6 linked regions of the Homo sapiens genome follow. The protein of the gene in region 1 purifies or fractionates together with the protein of each later gene. This does not show direct contact. Each region holds a gene or a part of one and is shown in the gene's direction. Other genes may lie near its edges.

Evidence for each region.
Region 2: the proteins of MMP10 (region 1) and ITIH2 purify together in Homo sapiens (affinity purification with mass spectrometry; one large-scale study listed by BioGRID and IntAct). This does not show direct contact.
Region 3: the proteins of MMP10 (region 1) and NPW purify together in Homo sapiens (affinity purification with mass spectrometry; one large-scale study listed by BioGRID and IntAct). This does not show direct contact.
Region 4: the proteins of MMP10 (region 1) and GAL purify together in Homo sapiens (affinity purification with mass spectrometry; 2 studies listed by BioGRID and IntAct, with this or other methods). This does not show direct contact.
Region 5: the proteins of MMP10 (region 1) and NUCB1 purify together in Homo sapiens (affinity purification with mass spectrometry; one large-scale study listed by BioGRID and IntAct). This does not show direct contact.
Region 6: the proteins of MMP10 (region 1) and HS3ST1 purify together in Homo sapiens (affinity purification with mass spectrometry; one large-scale study listed by BioGRID and IntAct). This does not show direct contact.

Annotation. Positions count from the first base shown.
Region 1 is NC_000011.10:102,774,129-102,777,628, reverse strand, and holds part of MMP10 (stromelysin-2 preproprotein), read left to right. Parts: intron 1-852; coding exon 853-1,017; intron 1,018-1,204; coding exon 1,205-1,349; intron 1,350-2,307; coding exon 2,308-2,441; intron 2,442-3,500. UniProt on the Homo sapiens protein: Can degrade fibronectin, gelatins of type I, III, IV, and V; weakly collagens III, IV, and V. Activates procollagenase.
Region 2 is NC_000010.11:7,727,316-7,730,815, forward strand, and holds part of ITIH2 (inter-alpha-trypsin inhibitor heavy chain H2 precursor), read left to right. Parts: intron 1-387; coding exon 388-513; intron 514-2,636; coding exon 2,637-2,818; intron 2,819-3,500. UniProt on the Homo sapiens protein: May act as a carrier of hyaluronan in serum or as a binding protein between hyaluronan and other matrix protein, including those on cell surfaces in tissues to regulate the localization, synthesis and degradation of hyaluronan which are essential to cells undergoing biological processes.
Region 3 is NC_000016.10:2,018,621-2,021,255, forward strand, and holds NPW (neuropeptide W preproprotein), read left to right. Parts: upstream 1-1,164; 5' UTR 1,165-1,281; coding exon 1,282-1,692; intron 1,693-1,912; coding exon 1,913-1,999; 3' UTR 2,000-2,135; downstream 2,136-2,635. UniProt on the Homo sapiens protein: Plays a regulatory role in the organization of neuroendocrine signals accessing the anterior pituitary gland. Stimulates water drinking and food intake. May play a role in the hypothalamic response to stress.
Region 4 is NC_000011.10:68,687,544-68,691,675, forward strand, and holds the end of GAL (galanin peptides preproprotein), read left to right. Parts: intron 1-297; exon of another isoform or gene 298-460; intron 461-470; coding exon 471-557; intron 558-1,248; exon of another isoform or gene 1,249-1,305; coding exon 1,306-1,383; intron 1,384-3,373; coding exon 3,374-3,444; 3' UTR 3,445-3,632; downstream 3,633-4,132. UniProt on the Homo sapiens protein: Endocrine hormone of the central and peripheral nervous systems that binds and activates the G protein-coupled receptors GALR1, GALR2, and GALR3.
Region 5 is NC_000019.10:48,906,812-48,910,311, forward strand, and holds part of NUCB1 (nucleobindin-1 precursor), read left to right. Parts: intron 1-3,500. UniProt on the Homo sapiens protein: Major calcium-binding protein of the Golgi which may have a role in calcium homeostasis. Acts as a non-receptor guanine nucleotide exchange factor which binds to and activates alpha subunits of guanine nucleotide-binding proteins (G proteins).
Region 6 is NC_000004.12:11,401,395-11,404,894, reverse strand, and holds part of HS3ST1 (heparan sulfate glucosamine 3-O-sulfotransferase 1 precursor), read left to right. Parts: intron 1-3,500. UniProt on the Homo sapiens protein: Sulfotransferase that utilizes 3'-phospho-5'-adenylyl sulfate (PAPS) to catalyze the transfer of a sulfo group to position 3 of glucosamine residues in heparan. Catalyzes the rate limiting step in the biosynthesis of heparan sulfate (HSact).

The DNA of each region.
Region 1 (3,500 bases):
AACTAAAGATTGTACACATCCAATGGCACCTATTACTGGGAAGATTTTTGACAATCAAAAATTATTTGATTATGGCCAGGCACCAGTGGCTAATGCCTGTAATCCCAGCATTTTGGGAGGCCAAGTTGGGTGAATCACTTGAGACCAGGAGTTTGAGACCAGCCTAGCCAACATGGTGAAACCTTATCTCAACAAAAATACAAAAATTAGCCGGGCATGGTAGCACGTGCCTGTAATCACAGCTACTCAGGAGGCTGAGGCACGAGAATCGCTTGGACACATACTCCAGCCTGGGCGACAGAATGAGACTCTGTCTCAAAAAAAAAAATTACTTGAGTATGATGAAGAGGAGGAAGAGAAAATCAGACTAAACCCCACAAGAAATAACCACAGTCTTCTGGCTTAAAAGTTTGAACGTAAATGTTATATGATTAATTTTAACCAAGGTTGCAACTGGCAAGTGTTCCTAAATTTGAACAATGACTTTTTATTTTTAGACAACGAAGAGTTATATTTACTGACATGCTATTAGTCTTGTCCTTTCAAAAAAAAATCTTTTGAAAATAATGCTTCTCATTTGTCAATATAGGAAAAGTGTCTTAGTTTTCCTGACCAAGGAGGGATCTAGGGAGGGATACGGTGAAAAACTGTCTTATATATTGACTTAAAGTCAACCTTGAAAAACACATTAATTTCTATAAAGTATGGAATGTGCCAATCAATGAACCAATCCACAAATACTGAAAAGACATTGTGGTTTCAAGGATGGCCTGTACAGCTGGCATATGTTCTGTATGTGTATTTATGGAAGAAAGAGCTGGTGAATTCTGAACATTTATGATTTTCATACAGGCACCAATTTATTCCTCGTTGCTGCTCATGAACTTGGCCACTCCCTGGGGCTCTTTCACTCAGCCAACACTGAAGCTTTGATGTACCCACTCTACAACTCATTCACAGAGCTCGCCCAGTTCCGCCTTTCGCAAGATGATGTGAATGGCATTCAGTCTCTCTACGGTGAGTGATGCTGGAAAAATTAGGCATTGCAGATCTACAATGACAGTCCTCCAGAAAGCTTTCCAGTGCTACCTAAAGTATTTCTGATTTGGCCTGAAGCACTTTGAGAATGTTTGAAAGGCACACAAATTGACAGATGCATCACATTTTTTTTTAATGTTTGCATCCCCAAATCTGTTTCCTTTAGGACCTCCCCCTGCCTCTACTGAGGAACCCCTGGTGCCCACAAAATCTGTTCCTTCGGGATCTGAGATGCCAGCCAAGTGTGATCCTGCTTTGTCCTTCGATGCCATCAGCACTCTGAGGGGAGAATATCTGTTCTTTAAAGACAGGTCAGACCAGAAAATTATATTTTCCTATCTATTCTTTTGATGTACAGTGCTTAGAAAGAAAAACAGAAACTTGACAGAGCTTTTTTTTTAATTTTAGGTTCAGGGGTACATGTGCAGGTTTGTTATATAGATAAACTCGTGTCACAGGGGTTTGTTGTACAGATAATTTTGTCACCCCAGTACTAATCCTAGTACCCAGTAGTTACTTTTTCTGCTTGACAGAGATTTTTTAAAATATAAAATTTCCTCTACATTTTAAAATCATTCAGATCTAGTTCTTGCTGAATTTTTAACATCTTCTTAGAATTGTCCAGATCATTTTTTACAGACTTATAAGGGATGATTCTTGGTCCCTAGACTGTAAGTTTGATTAAGGCAGGGAGTTATATCTGTTTCGTTCATTTTTTTAAAATATCATATATCATGGAACTTCTTCAGAAAGCACTGGTGGATCCTTAGAAGCAGGGTGGTATCTTTCCATTTACTAATATATGCTACTATTTAAATTAATTACTTTTGGAAAAAAGTGATATGTGCTTGTGGCACAATATTTAAACACTACCAAAAGATACGGAGTTAAAAAATCTCTCTCCAGTCTTTGGCCTACCGTCCTCCAGCTCCCTTCATATGTGCAACCACTGCTACCAATTTCCTTTGACTCTTTACAAAAATGTTCTACTCATATACAAGCATCAATATACACATAATATTTTTTAAAATATTAGGACATAATATGCACACTGTTTATGGACTTTTAGAATGGAACCAAGCTAAATAATTTTACTGGAACCAGTCACAAGTCCTGCCATCGATTTCATTACCCTGGAATCACATGCAGGAGGATGGTTTAATACAGACTTCTATGAATGGGTGAATTAGCATGGATTTAAAAAAAAAGAATTTTTTTTTCACATATCTAAAAGAGAAAGACAATTGCAAGTAATTTTATGTATTACAGATATTTTTGGCGAAGATCCCACTGGAACCCTGAACCTGAATTTCATTTGATTTCTGCATTTTGGCCCTCTCTTCCATCATATTTGGATGCTGCATATGAAGTTAACAGCAGGGACACCGTTTTTATTTTTAAAGGTGAGTACTATATAAGAATTTCAACTTGCTGGAATAAATCCTATTGCAAAAATTTTATTGACATGAGTTTTATCCATTATATTAAAGTTTAGATTACTGAAAGACCTTGTGCTAACACTTAAATAAAATTTGTACAAAGAACATTATAAACTTTATTTTAGAGACCTCTTAAGAAAATAGGTGGCATTCCATATTCATAAAAAATGCAAGATAGTAAAAATGTCAATTTATCTATAGATACAAGACATTTTCATTTCAAATACCAAATGCCAAAAGATTTTTCATGGAACTTGACAAATTAGTTTTACAATTTATATGGCAGAGGAAAGGCCAAGAATAGCCAGGATGCTCCTGGTGAACCCATCTTATTAGATGAGGAGAAAAGCCCTGTGTTATAAAACTTTAATCGGTAAGATGTAGTATCAGTGCAGGGAGAGATAAATTAACTAATGGAGATATTCAGGTATAGAGGCTTCTTTATCAGACTTTTAAACTACTGTTTCAATTTGTTTTATTGGTAATATGCTATTAGAGTTTCTATTACTTCTTGAGTCAGTTTTGTTAACATGTTTTTCTAAAAATTTGCCAATTTTGTCTGTTTTCAAATCCATCAGAAAAAGTTTTTGGAAAATTATTTTGTTGTAATTTGAATTATTGCTGAAGTTTTGTTTTCTTTTTCATTCTTAATACTGAATCCTTTTGCCTTTCTCTTTTTTCTTCATCAATCTCATAATATATGTAATAATTTTACTGATCTTTTCAAAGGACTGACTTTTGGCTTTATTTACTCTCTATATTATATTTTGATTTCCCGTTTAATTAGTTTCTGTTCATATCTTTATTGTTGCCTTAATTTTTGTTTACTTTGAATTGATCCTGTTATTATTGTTATAGCTTAAGTTTGATACTTACCTTATTAACTTGTAACTTTTTTCTTTTCTAATACAAGCATTTATACCTATAAATAACCATTTCTTCTGTTTCATCCAGCAAATTTCGATATGCAGTATTTTCATTTTGTTCAATTTTAATTCTTTAATTTCTCATTTTTATTTTTTC
Region 2 (3,500 bases), on another chromosome or scaffold:
GAACCGTTTTAATGTCTCTCAGAAAAAGGTTCAGTGACACTGGCCTTCTTTATTGCCTGCATAAAGCATAAAATGTTACTATCTTCAGAGTATCTTGGCAAGGCTGATTTGGATACTTTAATCTGGTGTTTAACAAGCTAACAGTCTGTGCTTTGAAAGGGCTAGTTCATCTCTAAGGGGATAGTTTATTTCAAAGTGAATATTTCACTGCACTGGGGGACCACCAGCTTGAGCACAGTTTGTGTCACTCAGAAAGCAATGAAATGATTTTGGCATGGAATAAGTGATGGATAAGTGATCAGCCGACATATGAGTCTGAATCCAGAATGGGATTTTCTGCGTGTGGCGAGAACGCATACCCAACGTTTCATTATGCTACTTCAACAGGCACAAACATCAACGAAGCACTCCTACGGGCAATCTTCATTTTGAATGAAGCCAATAACTTGGGACTGTTAGACCCCAACTCCGTCTCGCTGATCATTTTGGTTTCTGATGGAGATCCAACAGTGGGCAAGTGTCACTTCAACCTTCTCACGACAAACACTTTCACTGTTGTTTCTTGGAATGGTGGTTTGCCTAAAAGGGGAACTCTAATGGCATTTGCCTGAGTTTCTAGAACATTTTAAACCCATGCTTCCTAAAGGAGGTCTTCTGATCCTGCAGCCCTCACCCCTTAAGCTACTGCTCAGACACTTTCAGCAAGGGCGCTCTTGAATGCCTCAGTTCCACCTCCACAATATGCAGAAATCTGAGTCTGAATTTTAATAGTATGTTGTGAGGATTGCTGATGCATTCTAGGGAAATGCATCTATTTCCTCAACTTGAGGTATGTGAAGATGGTGTATGGGGGTGGTGAATGATGAGTATTGATCCCAGATCTCCCAGCAGTACCTTTGGAGGCCACAGTAGCATATTCCCTATTATTCTCCACACTTCTCCCGGTTGCACCTGGAGAAATGACTGCTCTCTGACACAACCTTGAAGTTAAACATTTTTCTTTCTACAAAATGGGCAGCAACATCTCCCTACTTCTATTATTTATTTTTATTTTTGTTACATTAGTTTATTTTATTTATTTTTGAAGACAGGGTCTTGCTCTGTCACCCAGGAGGGAGTGCAGTGGAGCACACACAGCTCACTGCAGCCTCAACCTCCCATGCTCAAGTGATCCTCCTACCTCAGCCTCCTGAGTAGCTGGGACTACAGGTGTGCACCACCACACTCAGCTAATTTCTTTTTTTTCTTTCTTTTTTTTTTTGGAGAGACGAAGTCTCACTATGTTGCTCAGGCTGATCTCAAAATCCTGGGCTCAAGCAGTCCTCCCACCTCGGACTCCCAAAATGTTGAGATTACAGGTGTGAGCCACTGTGCCAAGCTATCTTTGTTTTACTTGTGTCTTTATTCTGGCCACTGTAAGTAATAGCGAATGCCAGATTGTGTTGCCTGAGTGTGCTGTCGTACAGACTAGGACCGAGTCTAACACGTCCTGACACAGCCAAGCAGAATGAAAATGCACGAGGCAAAAACAATGGCAGTCAGAGCTTTAGAAAGCCAGAGAGCAACCATCTTATTAATAACGAGACTAGAATGAGCCAGTGTTATGTATTTGTTGTAGAGCCAATGTTTTCTCCCTCAGATCAGATTATTTTCAAAATTCAAGTTTTGAATGAAATCATAAGGTGGAAAAGGAAATATAGTTTAAAATATTAAACTTGCCAGGCATGGTGGCTCACACCTGTAATCCCAGCACTTTGGGAGGCTGAGGTGGGTGGATCACCTGAGGTCAGGAATTCAAGACCAGCCTGGCCAACATGGTGAAACCCCATCTCTACTAAAAATACAAAATTAGCCTGACAGGGCGGCGTGTGCCTGTAATCCCAGCTATTCGGGAGGCTGAGACAGGAGAATCCCTTGAACCCAGGAGGCGGAGGTTGCAGTGAGCTGAGATCGTGCCACTGCACTCCAGCCTGGGCAACAAAGTGAGACTCTGTCTCAAAAAAAAAAACAAAATTAAACCATAATTTGGTTTAATCATGGTTTCTCACTCCTGTTTCTCAACCATTCAGTTCCTGTCCCTGGAATCAGTCACTGGTTACCAGTTTCTTGTGTATCTTTCCACAAATAGTTTATGCATGCCTGTATACTATATATACATGTTTGCACACATGTATGTGTATATGCATACATACACATACATACATTTATACATGCATGCATGCAAATGCATCCTAGGTACCCTGATATTTACCTTGTTTTTTTTTTCTCCTCTAAACATGCCCTTGAGATTGTCTGGTATACATACATAAGGAGTTTCCATGTCCTTTTTAATAGCTGCATAGTATCTCACGGTTTAAATGTATCATCATCTAACCAAGCGCCCTCATTGGTGCATATTTATGTTGTTTCCAATATGTTGCTAATTCCCAAATAATGTTGCTATGCAACACAACCCACACTTCATTTCAACATGTACGAGTGCATCTCTAAGAAAAACTAGAAATTGAGTTACTGGGTCAAAAGGGAAATGCAGTTTTAATCTGGACACACTTTACTAAACTGCCCTCCCTGGATTTTCCAGAAAATTTATGATATTGCTTCTTCATTCCTTTCCTTTCGGACATCACCAACTTTAGGCGAACTAAAACTGTCAAAAATTCAGAAAAACGTTAAGGAGAACATCCAAGACAATATCTCCTTGTTCAGTTTGGGCATGGGATTTGATGTGGACTATGATTTTTTGAAGAGACTGTCCAATGAAAACCATGGAATTGCACAAAGGATTTATGGAAACCAGGACACGTCTTCCCAGCTTAAGGTAACATTTTCTTCTGTTCTTTTTTTATTCTTCACTGGAAATCATTTAACTACCCATATCTGATGCAGGTATGATGCATAACTGAACTTAACTCAAAATGGTCATGATCTCAGCCATATTTGGTTGCAAGGATCAGGGAAGTGCCCAGTTCCTTTCTCACATGTTTCCCCCCACCCTCATATTTCTGCAGTAACAGTGAGGTATGAGGCAGATGGGTGTTGGGAACAGCTGTCCTACCCCCTGAACAAAAAGGCCTTCTGAGCGTCATCAAAGCTCCTTGTAGCTCTCCTGCCCCACCAGCAATTGGTCTTCTTATCATCATGGCCAACCGTTTTCTCTTTAACGTGCATTGGCATCTTGGTATCAATTTTTCACAGTGTAAATTTTCTTAAGTATTAAGATACAGGCTGAGTGTGGTGGCTCATGCCTGTAATCCCAGCTCTTTGGAGGCCAAGGTGGGAGGATCACTCGAGCCCAGAGGTTTAAGGCCAGCTTGGGCAACATAGTGAGATCCATCTGTTCAACAGATAATTTTTTTAATTAAAATACATATATTGAAAAGACACAAACTACTTGTTTGTTTTGATTAAATAGATGAGAAAATGATGTAGGGAAAGAACATGTTTTTCCCTGCTCTTTGTCAGTACCAGGCATCGTATTTAAATTTGGGAACAAGTAAGAG
Region 3 (2,635 bases), on another chromosome or scaffold:
CCAGCCTGGGCAACAGAGCCAGAATCCGTCTCAAAAAAAAAAAAAAAGATGCAGTTTCGCTCTTGTTGCCCAGGCTGGAGTGCAATGATGCAATCTTGGCTCGCTGCAACCTCCGCCTCCCGGGTTCAAGCGATTCTCCTGCCTTAGCTTCTCAAGTAGCTGGGATTACAGGTGCCTGCCACCATACCCAGCTAATTTTTTGTGTTTTTCGTAGAGATGGGGTTTCACCACGTTGGCCAGGCTGGTCTTGAATTCATGACCTTAGGTGATCCGCCCGCCTCGGCCTCCCAAAGTGCTGGGATTACAGGTGTGAGCCACCGCGCCCGGCCAAGGATCTGGGCCATTTAAGTGGAGTCTTGAAGGATGAGTAGGTGTTAGGCACAGACGCACAGAGGCAGGCAAAGCCACAGGCTGTTGGTTTAGGCAAAAATTGAGACTGGCTGGATAAAGTGGTCTTGGGGGACCATCACCAGAGAGGAGGCGCTGGAGGTCTGCAAGGCCTTGTCCTGCCCCTCCAGGGGTAGAGGTTCCAGGAGGGGCTGACTTTTTCTCCTGGAAGCCTCACAGAACTGCAGACCCCACGGATGGCTTGGTGTTGCCAACATGAGGCTTCTAAGGCTTCTGCGGGGAGATGGGTTGGTGGGGAGAAGCTGGGGGTGGCAGTGGACAGGACAGGGTGTGGGGACAGCTTTGGGAGCTATGCTAGGCAAGGACAAGGGACAACTCTTGGGGGGACTCACCCAGAGGGGTCTTGAATGGTGCTGAAGGCCCCCGACAGCCCTCCTGCAATAGCCACTGTAGCTCTGCCTGCACCTGGGCCTTCGCTCTGCTGTCGTCCCACCGGCAGGAGTCTGGCTAAAGGGGCATCCCTCAGCCCTACTCCCTCATCAGTGTTCCCAGTACCCACTCCCTGGCACTTCCACTCCTAGAGGGAGGAGGCTGAGCAGGCAGAGAATGGGACGTGTCCCCTCAGAGGAGCCTCGAGCCCAGTTCCAGCCAGCGGCCCACTCAGTGAGGTGCTCAAGTACCCACGTCCCCCGCCAGCTGCCAGGGTTCCCTCTCCTCCCTCCGTCCCTCCCCCCATCTGGGGAGCCCAGCGGTACTGAGGGGGCGGAACGAGGCGGGGCCACCGAGCGGTTATAGCTGGGCCTGCAGGGGACCCACGGCTCGCCTCCAGCCTCCTGCGCTCCGGTACCTGGGCGTCCCAACTCCACTGCGCGCCCAAACCCAGCCGAGCCGGTTCGTGGCCCGCCCCGCCGGGCGGCCGTCGACGCGAGCGCCCTGGCGTGGCGCCCAGGGGAGCGGGGGGCTCCCGCGAGCCGGCCGCGGCTGGCACTGCTGCTGCTTCTGCTCCTGCTGCCGCTGCCCTCCGGCGCGTGGTACAAGCACGTGGCGAGTCCCCGCTACCACACGGTGGGCCGCGCCGCTGGCCTGCTCATGGGGCTGCGTCGCTCACCCTATCTGTGGCGCCGCGCGCTGCGCGCGGCCGCCGGGCCCCTGGCCAGGGACACCCTCTCCCCCGAACCCGCAGCCCGCGAGGCTCCTCTCCTGCTGCCCTCGTGGGTTCAGGAGCTGTGGGAGACGCGACGCAGGAGCTCCCAGGCAGGGATCCCCGTCCGTGCGCCCCGGAGCCCGCGCGCCCCAGAGCCTGCGCTGGAACCGGAGTCCCTGGACTTCAGCGGAGCTGGCCAGGTACGTGAGAGGGGAGAGGCCTGGACCGCCGCGGGCAAGGGGGTCTCGGGAGGTCTGAGCCGGAGCACGGAGCCGCGCGTTCAGGGGGCACCCTCGGGCCCTTCCATTCCCTGCTCCGCGCCCAGAAGAGCTTTCCCTGGGCAGGCTCGACCCTGGCACCCGGGGGCGGTGGTTGGAGGGCCACAGCCTCCTCCCCACGGCCTTGCTGTGTTCTCGTTAGAGACTTCGGAGAGACGTCTCCCGCCCAGCGGTGGACCCCGCAGCAAACCGCCTTGGCCTGCCCTGCCTGGCCCCCGGACCGTTCTGACAGCGTCCCCCGCCCGCCCGTGGCGCCTCCGCGCCTGACCCAGGAGGAGTGGCCGCGCGCTTCCAGGAGCCGCTCATAGACCCCGCCTGCCGTCCGGTCAATAAAATCCGCCTGACTCCTGCGCCCCCGCATGCGACCCCTTCGTCTGCTTGTGTACTTTGCCGTCTAGCTCAGGGCGCAGACAGGCGCGCCCACGCCCTGGCAAATGTCAGGGGCCCCTCCCTCGCCGACCAGGGGAAGCGCCGGGCACTCAGCATTCATTTCAAACCTGGATCTCCCGGCACCCCCTCCCTCCCTTAGCCAAAGGCTTCCGCAGATTGATTAAGAACCCCTGGTCCCCTTCTTCTGGGTCATGCCCCGGGAGGAGGGGCCCCTCCACCTGAGCCCCACCTTGCTTCTTGCTTTTTTTTTTTTTTTTTTTTGAGATGCAGTCTCTCTTTGTTGTCCAGGCTGGAGTGCAATGGCGCGATCTCGGGTTACTGCAACCTCCACTTCCCAGGTTCAAGCGATTCTCCCGCCTCAGCCTCCTGAGTAGCTGGGATTACAGGCACCCACCATGATGCCCAGCTAATTTTTGTATTTTTGTAGAGACAGGGTTTCACCATGTTGGACGTGCTGGTCTTGAACTCCTGACCT
Region 4 (4,132 bases), about 34 Mb from region 1:
CAGCTGCCAGAGTGAAAATAAAAATCAGATTCAGTCACAACTTAAACTCTTCAGCGTCCCCCATGCTTTCAGGGACATGAGGACCCAGCTCCTGTTGTCTGCCAGGGAGTCACCCAGTTTGATGCCAGCTCAGTGCCAGCTCAGATGCCAGCTCCTCTGGACCCAGGCGCAACCCCTGCAACAGGGCAGGTTCTGGGCCTCTCCCCCACTTCAGGAGCCACACCTCCCTTTCTCCCACCCACCCTGTGCAAACCCTCACATTCCCTTTGACCCTGGTGTGAGCGGCCAAGCTCTTACCTCAGCTGGGTGGAGAATCGCTCCCTCTGCTCTGGTGTCTGTCCCTGGGCTCTATTTCACAGTCGAGTTGCGTGTGTGTGTTGGCTACAGGCAGCCCTGTGTCCTTCTTTGGGTGTGGGGAGGGCGTGCATGACAGTCACACCCAGAGGCTTTCCTCTCTGATCTGCAAACAGATGCCGTTGGCAACCACAGGTCATTCAGCGACAAGAATGGCCTCACCAGCAAGCGGGAGCTGCGGCCCGAAGATGACATGAAACCAGGTGAGAGGACTCCTATCCCGGGCCCCGGGGCACCTCACTTCCACCAGCTCCCAGGTGCATGCAGGGGACAGCTGTGGGTGTCGGGGCTGTCCACAGCTGCAGCCCAAGCCTGGCCATGACTTGACTAAGACGATGTGGCCTCGCCACACCTGTCAGCAGCTGCAAACAGAACGTGCAAACCCGAGACAGCAAGGGGTCCTTCTAGGCTGGGAGGCTGCCCAGGCACCAGGGCCTCCAGAAGAGCGGGACTGGGCACGATGGCTCCTGCCTGTAATCCCAGCACTCTGGGAGGCTGATGCGGGTGGATCACCTGAGGTCTGGAGTTCAAGACCAGCCTGGCCAACATGGCAAAACCCTGTCTCTACCAAAAATATAAAAATTAGCCAGGCGTGGTGGTGGGTGCCTGTCATCCCAGCTACTTGGGAGGCAGAGGCTCGAGAATCACTTGAACCTGGGAGGCGGAGGTTGCAGTGAGCCAAGATCATGACACTGCATTCCAGCCTAGGCAACAGAGTGAGACTCCATCTCAATTAAAAAGAAGAAGAAGAAGAAAAGCGAGGCCTCGAACTGGATATCTCCCCAACTCCCTCACATTGAACAAGGGCCTTGGAAAGCACAGCAGGGCCTCAGGCTGCTGGGATCAGATCATTGACCTTGCAGCGCCCAGCTCCTCTGTAGGGAGGGGGATGACCTGAGACACTGAAGCACCCTCTGCACAAGTCGTGAATGTTGATCTTTTCTCTTCTAGGAAGCTTTGACAGGTCCATACCTGAAAACAATATCATGCGCACAATCATTGAGTTTCTGTCTTTCTTGCATCTCAAAGGTATGTGAAATATCATCAACTTAACATTCATCTCTTAGTACACTGGAAACGTAAAAGGCCCATCGAGAAGAGAACCCATAGAATCCCCCTGGGAAGTAGCCGATTACTTATCTACGTACAAAGTCCTGTTTGGCTGTGTGTCGGGATAACAGAGAATGTAACACTAGAGCTAGCTCCAGAGGGCTGGGATTGCGGCAGGGGCATTCTACCGTCGTGGAGGGCCATCGGGCCAGCGCTGGTCCCAGGAAGAGAGTGGGCCTCAGGGTGCAGCTCATTCTACTGGAACCATATCTATTCACACGGTGACAACTGCTGTACCTTTTAGGGCAGAGGTATACTACAGGCCAAGTTCTTTGTGAACCGTCCTAAACCTTTTCTCTTTTCTTTTTTCTCTGTCTTTTCTTTCTCTTCTCTCTTTTCTTTCTTTCTTCTTTCTCTTCCTTCCTTCCTTTTTCTTCCTCCCTCTTTCTCTCTCTCTTTCTTCCTTCCTTCCTTCATCTCACTCTGTCGCCCAGGCTCGAATGTAGTGGTGCAATCTCAGCTCACTGCAGCCTCTGCCTCCTGGGCTCAAGTGATTCTCGTGCCTCTTCTTCCCAGGTAGCTGGGAAAACAGGTGCGCACAATTATGCCTGGCTAATTTTTGTATTTTTAGTAGAGGCTGGGGTTCATCATGTTGGCCAGGCTCATCTTGAACTCCTGGCCTCAAGTGACCTGTCTGCCTCAGTCTCCCAAAGTGCTGGGATTACAGGCGTGAGCCACTGTGCCTGGCCCTAAACCATATTTTCTAAGCATGGGAAATTAATAGAAGCCCATATCTTAGACTGCAGTGTTTCTCTATGCAGCCTTCCTGCCAGGCAGGCTGCCTTGAAATCTAACTGGAAAGGCTCTGATCCTGGCTTCCAGTGTCTTCTGCAAACACTGGGGATGAGGAGACCTCCGCACACTACGCTTGGCATTCATTCTACGATGGGCATCTGGCCTTGATCAGATAACCACACAGGTCCTACTGCAGCAGTGGAGGGAGCCGGAAAGCGGCCCCGGTGCTCTGAGGGTTAACAGGGAGGTGGTGGTGGGGAGGAGGGATGGACCGCTTTGCCTCTCCAGCAGAGAAGACCTTCACCTGGTGCTCTGAGAGTTAAGGGGGAGGCAGTGGTGGGGAGGAGGGATAGACCGCTTTGCCTCTCCAGCAGAGAAGACCTTCACCTGGTGCTCTGAGAGTTAAGGGGGAGGTGGTGGAGGGGAGGAGGGATGGACCACTTAGCCTCTCCAGTGGAGAAGACCTTCACCTGCTGCTCTGAGAGTTAACAGGGAGCTGGTGGTGGGGAGGAGGGATGGACCGTTAGCCTCTCCAGTGGAGACCTTCAGTTGCACATCACAGTTTTGTCCAGTTTTGAAAAATCAAGGCTAATCCTTGGGTTCATTTTGGATCAGGATGTTTTTCATTTGCAGTGTTATCGGGCTGCACTTTAGGTGGCGATGGGGAGAGGGAAGAGGAGTGAGGGGAGGGGAGCGGGGGAAGGAGACTGCCAGAGAAGGTCTTGGAAAAGGCGGTGTTCATTAGAAATCTCAAAACCGAGTCACCAAGTTCCCTCTGTTGGAGCCCAGTGGAGCCTCTGGGAGAAAAGCTGGGGTGACTTTTCCTACAAGGGGCAGAGGGACTCTGCTAGATTTTTGTTTTTCATTTGTTTTTAATTTTGTAACATGGAAACTCTTTCCTTAGGATATACCAGCTCTCATTACTCAGCTAGGAATTATACCTCTTTAAAGCCTGAATTTAAAAGTCTGACAGTTTTAAATGCTTACTAACTGTGGGAGTTAAATCATTACGAAGTGAGGAATACAGAGTGTTGTCCCTGATTCTGGGTTTAATCTGGTAAGAATCTTTACAGAGGACGACCACACGCCGCTTCCTGTAGCATGTGTCGTGGTTGTAATTCTCTCATGTGCATATTAAGAAGTTGCTGCTCAGATGTGGCTCTTCCCTTTGCAGAGGCCGGTGCCCTCGACCGCCTCCTGGATCTCCCCGCCGCAGCCTCCTCAGAAGACATCGAGCGGTCCTGAGAGCCTCCTGGGCATGTTTGTCTGTGTGCTGTAACCTGAAGTCAAACCTTAAGATAATGGATAATCTTCGGCCAATTTATGCAGAGTCAGCCATTCCTGTTCTCTTTGCCTTGATGTTGTGTTGTTATCATTTAAGATTTTTTTTTTTTGGTAATTATTTTGAGTGGCAAAATAAAGAATAGCAATTACTTGCAATTGTCTTTTTCTTCCACACCTCTGTCTCATCACCAGCGCCACCCATGGGTTTTAAAAGATAAAGCTTGATCATAATCGTGGATTAGACATGAATTTTAAACCCAAATTCTACCGTCAAGAGCATCTGAGACACCACCTGTTATTGCATGTCCAGGGGACATAAATTTATCTCCATATTAAGCTGAGTCAAATGTAATTATGAAGGTAAGTCTGTTACTGAGATGAACAAAAACACAAAACAGACAAAACCCCTGCCCTCGTGGAGCTGATATTTTAGGGAGATGGGAATGAAAAAGACTACAACAACCTTAAACAGATGGGTGAGTTGCGTGGTACTCATGGAGGTGGTCAGTGCTGAGAACAGACGTGTTGGCCAGGTGGGAGGGCCAGGAGCAAGGCAGGAGAGGAGAGATGGGCGGGCAGGTAGAAAGGCAAGGGCAGGAGGTGTGTGCAGGGATGGTGCTGTGTGAAGGAAGGCCTGTGGGAATATCTC
Region 5 (3,500 bases), on another chromosome or scaffold:
TAGTTAACATTTGCTCCATTTGCTTTGTCACTCACGTTTGGGACTTCACCACAGTCACCATCTCATCACCCTTACACATTTCAGTGTGATACTCTTGCATAAGTACAGCGATAAAATCGGGAGATTTATCAGGTCACACTGTTTTTCCTTGCTCAGCTAATATCTTTCTTTTTTTTTTTTTGAGACAGAGTCTCGCTCTGTCACCCAGGCTGGAGTGCAGTGGTGCAATCTCGGCTCACTGCAAGCTCCGCCTCCTGGATTCACGCCATTCTTGTGCCTCAGCCTCCCAAGTAGCTGGGACTACAGGCGCCCGCCACCATGCCCAGCTAATTTTTTGTATTTTTAGTAGAGACGGAATTTCACTGTATTAGCCAGGATGGTCTTGATCTCTAACCTCGTGATCCGCCCACCTCGGCCTCCCAAAGTGCTGGGATTACAGGTGTGAGCCACCGCGCCTGGCCTTTTTTTTTTTTTTTTTTGGTGAGACAGAATCTTGCTCTGTCTCCCAGGCTGCACTACAGTGGCGCGATCTCGGCTCACTGCAACCTCCGCCTCCTGGGTTCAAGCAATTCTCCTGCCTCAGCCTCCCAAGTAGCTGGGATTACAGGTGTGTGCCACCACACCTGGCTAATTTTGTATTTTTAGTAGATACTTGATTTTGCCATGTTGGCCAGGCTGGTCTTGAACTCCTGACTTCAAGTGATCCTCCTGTCTCGGCCTTCCAAAGTGCTGGGATTACAGGCCTGAGCCACCAGCCTTGGCCCCCATCTTAAGGTCTTTAATGTAATCCCATCCGCCAGGACCCCTTAGCCCGGAAAGGTCACGCATTCACAGGTTCCGGGGATCAGGATGTGGATATCTTTTAGGGCACCAGTATCCAGCTGCCACAACACCCAGGCTCTTCCCGTCCCTCCTCTGCCCAGAGCCTGCCCCCGGCACCCCAGTGCCCTCAGGCCCGCATTCATGTTCCTCTTGTCTGCTCGGAGCCTGGGTGGACCTTGGCCACACCCGCCCAACCCTGCCCTTCCCGTATGCACCCTGACCTTCTTGCGTCAGCATTTTTAGAAATTGCTGGCGTGCAGCCTTGGGACCTTTGTCCGTTCGCCCCGCTCTCCCGTGACATTCTTTCTCAGGGCTCTTTGCCTGGTCCATGGACCTTCCATCTCCCCTGGAATGTCACCTCCTCAGGGTGTCACCGCCCCGGCTGTCCTGTGTGAAGGAGCCTCTGTGTTATTTGTGTCCTTGGTATTCCTTTGTTCATCCCTTGGTCGCCTGTTCTCTGTCTCTCTAGACTGGGTGCTCCAAGAGGCAGAACTCTTTTGGTTGTTGTTGTTTTTGAGACAGAGTCTCACTCTGTCGCCCAGGCTGGAGTGCAGTGGCGCGATCTCGGCTCACTGCAACCTCTGCCTCCCAGGTTCAAGCGATTCTCCTGCCTCAGCCTCCTGAGTATCTGGGATTACAGGTGCCCGCCACCATACCTGGCTAATTTTGTATCTTTAGTAGAGACAGGGTTTCACCATGTTGGCCAGGCTGGTCTCAAACTCCTGACCTCAGGTGATCCACCCGCCTCAGCCTCCCAAATTGCTGAGATTACAGGCATGAGCCACCCCGCCTGGCCTCCAAGAGTCAGAATTCTGTCATCATTTGATTCCTGCTGTGTCCATAGCGGCCGGCGCTGGGTCAGCCTGGAATAGCGGCTCAACACACGTCCCTGGCACAAATAATGAATTTGAGATTCAGTTTGTACCTGTGTCCTGCACACCTGTCACTCCTCTGGGCTCAGCCAGGGCCGGAGCTGCCTCCACTGCAGCCTAGGTCTCCCAAATTCTAGCTGCCCGTGTGTGTGTGTGTGTGTGTGTGTGTGTGTGTGTGTGTGTGTGTGTGTGTCTTTCTGCCCACTTGACCAAGGGGTGTGTGTGTGTGTGTGTGTGTGTGTGTGTGTGTGTGTGTGTCTTTCTCCCCACCTAACCAAGGGCCACTGGAGGCCAGGGCCAGGCTGATTCATTTTGGGTCCAGCATTGCACAGCGCAGGCCTGGGCCCCTAGAAGCCTCGGGAGACATGCGTGCGGTAAGTGTGTGTTGGCAGCGTGTGCGCTGTCCTTTCCTGCCTGGAAACCCTACCCCTTCCTGACTACTTGGAAACTCCCATATGAGGGAGGCTGCACTTGTTTGCTGAGGCCGCTGTAACCAAGTACCACTGACCAGGTGCTTCAGCAACAGAACTTGACTGTCTCATGGCCTGCAGTCAGAGTCCAAAGTGAAAGTATTGGCAGGGTTGGTTCCTTCTGGGGCTATGAGGGAGGATCTGTACCAGGCCCCTCTCCTTGGCTTGCAGATGGCCGTCTTCTCACTGCATTTTCACACCATCTTTCCTCTCTGTGTGCCTGGCCCAAATTTCTCCTTCCATTATTATTTTTTATTAATTATTATTATTATTATTTTTTTTTTTTTCCAAGACAGAGTTTTGCTCTCGTTGCCCAGGCTGGAGTGCGGTGGCGCGATCTCAGCTCACTGCAACCTCTGCCTCCCAGGTTCAAGCGATTCTCCTGCCTCAGACTCCTAAGTAGCTGGGATTACAAGCACGCGCCACCACGCCTGGATAATTTTGTATTTTTAGTACAGATGGAGTTTTGCCATGTTGGGCAGGCTGGTTTCGAATTCCTGACCTCAGGTGATCCACCCGCCTTGGCCTCCCAAAGTGCTAGGATTACAGGTGTGAGCCACCGCGCCCGGCCTATTATTATTTTGAGACAGGGTTTCACTTCTATCCTCCAGGCTAGAGTGCAGTGGTGCGATCTCGGCTCACTGCATCCTCCCCCTCCCACGCTCAAGTGATTCTCCTGCCTTAGCCTCCTGAGCAGCTGGGACTACAGGCACACACCACTGCACACAGCTAATTTTTATATTTTTTGTAGAGATGGGGTTTCACCATGTTGCCCACGCTGGTCTCGAATGCCTGAGCCCAAGTGATCCTCCCACCTCAGTCTCCCAAAGTGCTGGGATTACAGGCATGAGCCACTGTGCCCAGTCATAAATTTCTGCCTTTTATAAGGTCACCAATCATGTTGGATTAGGGCCCACAGTAATGACCTCATCTTAACCTGATTCCCTCTGTAAAGACCTAGTCTCCAAATCAGGTCACATTCTGAGGTACTGGGGCTTAGGACTTCAACATAGAAACTTAGGAGCGTGCAATTTAACCCCTAAGATTGGTTGATGCTTTATCAAAAATTTTGATGTTTTTCTTTTGTTTGTATGTATGTATTTATTTTATTTATTTATTTTTCAGACGGAGTCTCACTCTGTCACCAGGCTGGTGCAGTGGCGTGATCTCGGCTCACTGCAACCTCCGCCTCCCAGGTTCCAGTGATTCCCCTGCCTCAGCCTCCCAAGTAGCTGGGGCTACAGGTGCGCACCACCATGCCCAGCTAATTTTTTATGTTTTTATTAGAGATGGGGTTTCACCATGTTGGCCAGGATGGTCTCAATCTCTTGATCTT
Region 6 (3,500 bases), on another chromosome or scaffold:
TTGAGGACTTGCAGTGAGGATTACAGCAAGCCCTGTGTGGAAAGTTGCCAGTCTAGTGCCTGCTCAGTAGCAATTGCTGCAGATGGGAGCTGCAATCATTGCTTTTGCCAAGGATGTGGCCTCAGCTCCAGGTGCTATAGAGAATTCTGTATCCATGCCCACATCAGCCAAGTGCTTCAACTGTCAAAAGGTCCCATTTGTTTACTTTTACCTGGTTTGTTTCTTGAGGGAGAAGATCGAATTTGCCTTTGTGCTGCCTGCAGGTTCAAACCTGCCTTCCTGGTTCTTCTCCTGTTCAGGAAGCTCCTAATCTGTGAGTGCGTAGAGAATCTTGCTTTCAGGAGAGTGTGTTCCACACTTAAAGACCTCTCAGATTAAGAATTGCAAACATGCCCAGTGCTATCTATCTCTGTGCTCTCTAACTCAATTGCCACCAGCCATATGTGTCCTTGAGATGTGCTACACAGGAAATATATATGCACTTGGATTTTGAAGACTGGGTAGAAAAAAATGCAAAATATTTCATTAATTTTATATAGTGATTAGGCCAGGTATGGTGGCTCACACCTGGAATCCAAGCACTTTGGGAGACCGAAACAGGTGGATCACTTGAGGTCAGGAGTTCGAGACCAGTCTGACCAACATGGCGAAACCCCATCTCTACTAAAATTATAATACAAAAATTAGCCAGCTGTGGTGGCACACACCTGTGGTCCCAGCTACTTGGGAAGCTGAGGCACAAGAACTACTTGAACCCAGAATGCAGAGGTCACAGTGAGCTGAGATCATGTCACTGCACTCCAGCCTGGGCGACAGAGGAAGACTCTGTCTCAAAAAAGAAAAATTATATAGTGATTATAGGTTAGAGTGATAACACTTTAGATCTATTAAGCTATGTAGAATATATGTTTTAAAATGTCTGAATGCATATGTTATACACAATATATTTATATTGGACAGTCCTGACACACATTGTTTCATTTCAGTCTCAAAGTAATCATTTGAAGCAGGTGGAATTATTACCATTTTACAGATGAGGAAACTGAAGCTAAGAGAGGTTAAGTCACTTTGACCAAGGTCCAAACTAGAGACAGGAATCCTGACTCCAGGGCCTGTGCAATTCATTTGGACCCTTCTACTGAACAGAACAAATGAGCAAGTTTGACCCTGTACTACACATACCCTGTGTGTCAGCTGACACTGGAAGTTGGTGGCCAGGGAGTTGTCATTGCTGGGTAGATTTTGTTGGGTTTTTCTTCTATGGAATCCCAAAAATATTGTCATTATTTTACATTACAACCACTTACTCGGAAGACAGTAGTAACAGCAACTAGACTACAGAACTGGACTTCTGGAGCCAAAAGTCCTAGGAACAGATTTACTATGTGACACTGGGCAAGTCATCTTGGGGTGTGAAAGGCAGGGACTAAGTGACTCCCTTCTTCCCTGATGTTTATAACTTCATTGTCAAGATCAAGGTGGCACACAGGAATGGCTTACAGGTTCACCTGAGCTTGGGAATCTTTTTGTTTCTGAGAGTGTTACAAAAAGGACCAGAAATCCTTTCTGTGCCACTGGGAAGTCCAAATTACAAAACCACAAGAGGAAGTTGGCTCCCAATGCCCACAGTGTGTATGTAATATAAAACAGGTTATACTATATTTAGCTATGAATATATGTGTGCATACATTTACACACACAAACACATATGTACTTATACACATTTTTACATATACACATAAAAGATACACATGGGGTATACACATGATATATATGCTATATATAGTATGTGTGTATGTATATGTGTGCGTATATACTTGCATATGTGTATATAAGACATTAGCTAATTTCTTTCTCTATTAGCCTCAAATATTTTTGAATGAAAAAGGTCTAGACATAAGTAAATACATTTTTAGAAAGGATTAAAATACAAACAAGGAGCTTATAAGCTACTTAACTTCCCAATACGTTGTTGTTATTTTCTTTCATAAAGGACAAACTATATTTAGTTTCTTCTCTACTGTCTGCTGGTAATTCTCCTTCAGGAAAGAAACCTCAGATGTACACTACACTAACCAGGATGCCTCAGGTTAGAGTTGAAGGAGCATAAACAGTCAGATAATATGAATTTCAGATCTGGCCTCTGCCTCTACACTTAGGTATCAAATAATATGAATGTGTTGTTCCCTGAGTCTGAACATGGAACTATAAGATGGTGATAGCAGTGACCAACACACAGTATAGCTCTCTAAAGGGTAGTAGTTAGTCCCTCTCTCACTTGACCTACCTGTTATACCTGCACACACACACACACATGCATGCATACACATACAGACACACTCAAGCATGCACATACAATTGCATACATTCTCACATCTCAAACATGTAAGAGCCAAGCACAATTGGTACATTTGGTCGAACCACATAGGTGACTTGAGAAGGAAATGAAATTCAGCTGAAACACCCTGAAACCATCACTTGACTAAAAAAATTGGCCTGTTAAATTTAGTTCACCAATCGGTAGAACCAACCTGAAACCTCATCGTTCTTGGCTATCCTTTCTAAAGCATTCTTGATTTTTTCTTAAAGAGTTACATCACTGATCTCTCAGGTCCCTTCTCCAGTGCACTGTGGTTCTCTAAAACCTTCCATCTATTTGATTACTTGCTCTTTAATATGTTTTTCAAAGAAGATAACAATATCTGAGAAAGGTAGATTAGCTGGTTGATCATAAAAATGGATGTCCTGGAATTTGTTCTTCCTTTATTCATTCTGGACAAGTTTTAAACTAATGAAGTAAATTTTGAAACTACCGTACAAAAGATGATGAGTCCTCTTGATGGAGAATATTTTTACTAGCTTTGTAAATCCCTCAGTCCCCAAGCCAGGCCTGTCTCTTACGCTTCCCTTAATGTGTTTTAACAGAGATGACTCAAGTGAAAGCAACTAATCTCCTCTTTAGGGGATAGCGTGAAACACAGACTGATGAGTATCAGCTCCTTGAAAACATAAACCCTTGACTGGTCTGTCTTGTGGAACCCCACAGCATCTAGGCCAGCAGTTCCTGTGTCCTTTACTGCCTAAATGTTATAAATCTTAAATAGGTAAAGAGGAGAAGTTTTGTGGAAAAGATGTGGTTTGTGGATAAAGAACACTGAGTTTAGAGTTTTCAATTTGGGCTCTAAATTTTGAAATAGACTAATAGAATTGTGTCCTTAGACAAGACTACCCTCTATAAAATGGTGGTGACAGGCCAGGCGCAGTGGCTCATGCCTGTAATCCCAGCACTTTGGGAGGCCGAGGCAGGCAGATCACCTGAGGGTGGGATTTCGAGACCAGCCTGACCAACATAGAGAAAGCCCATCTCTATTAAAAATACAAAATTAGCTGGGCGTGGTGGCACATGCCTGTAATCTCAGCTACTCGGGAGACTGAGGCAGGAAAATCACTTGAACCGGGGAGGCGGAGGTTGCGGTGAGCTGAGATCACACCATTGCACT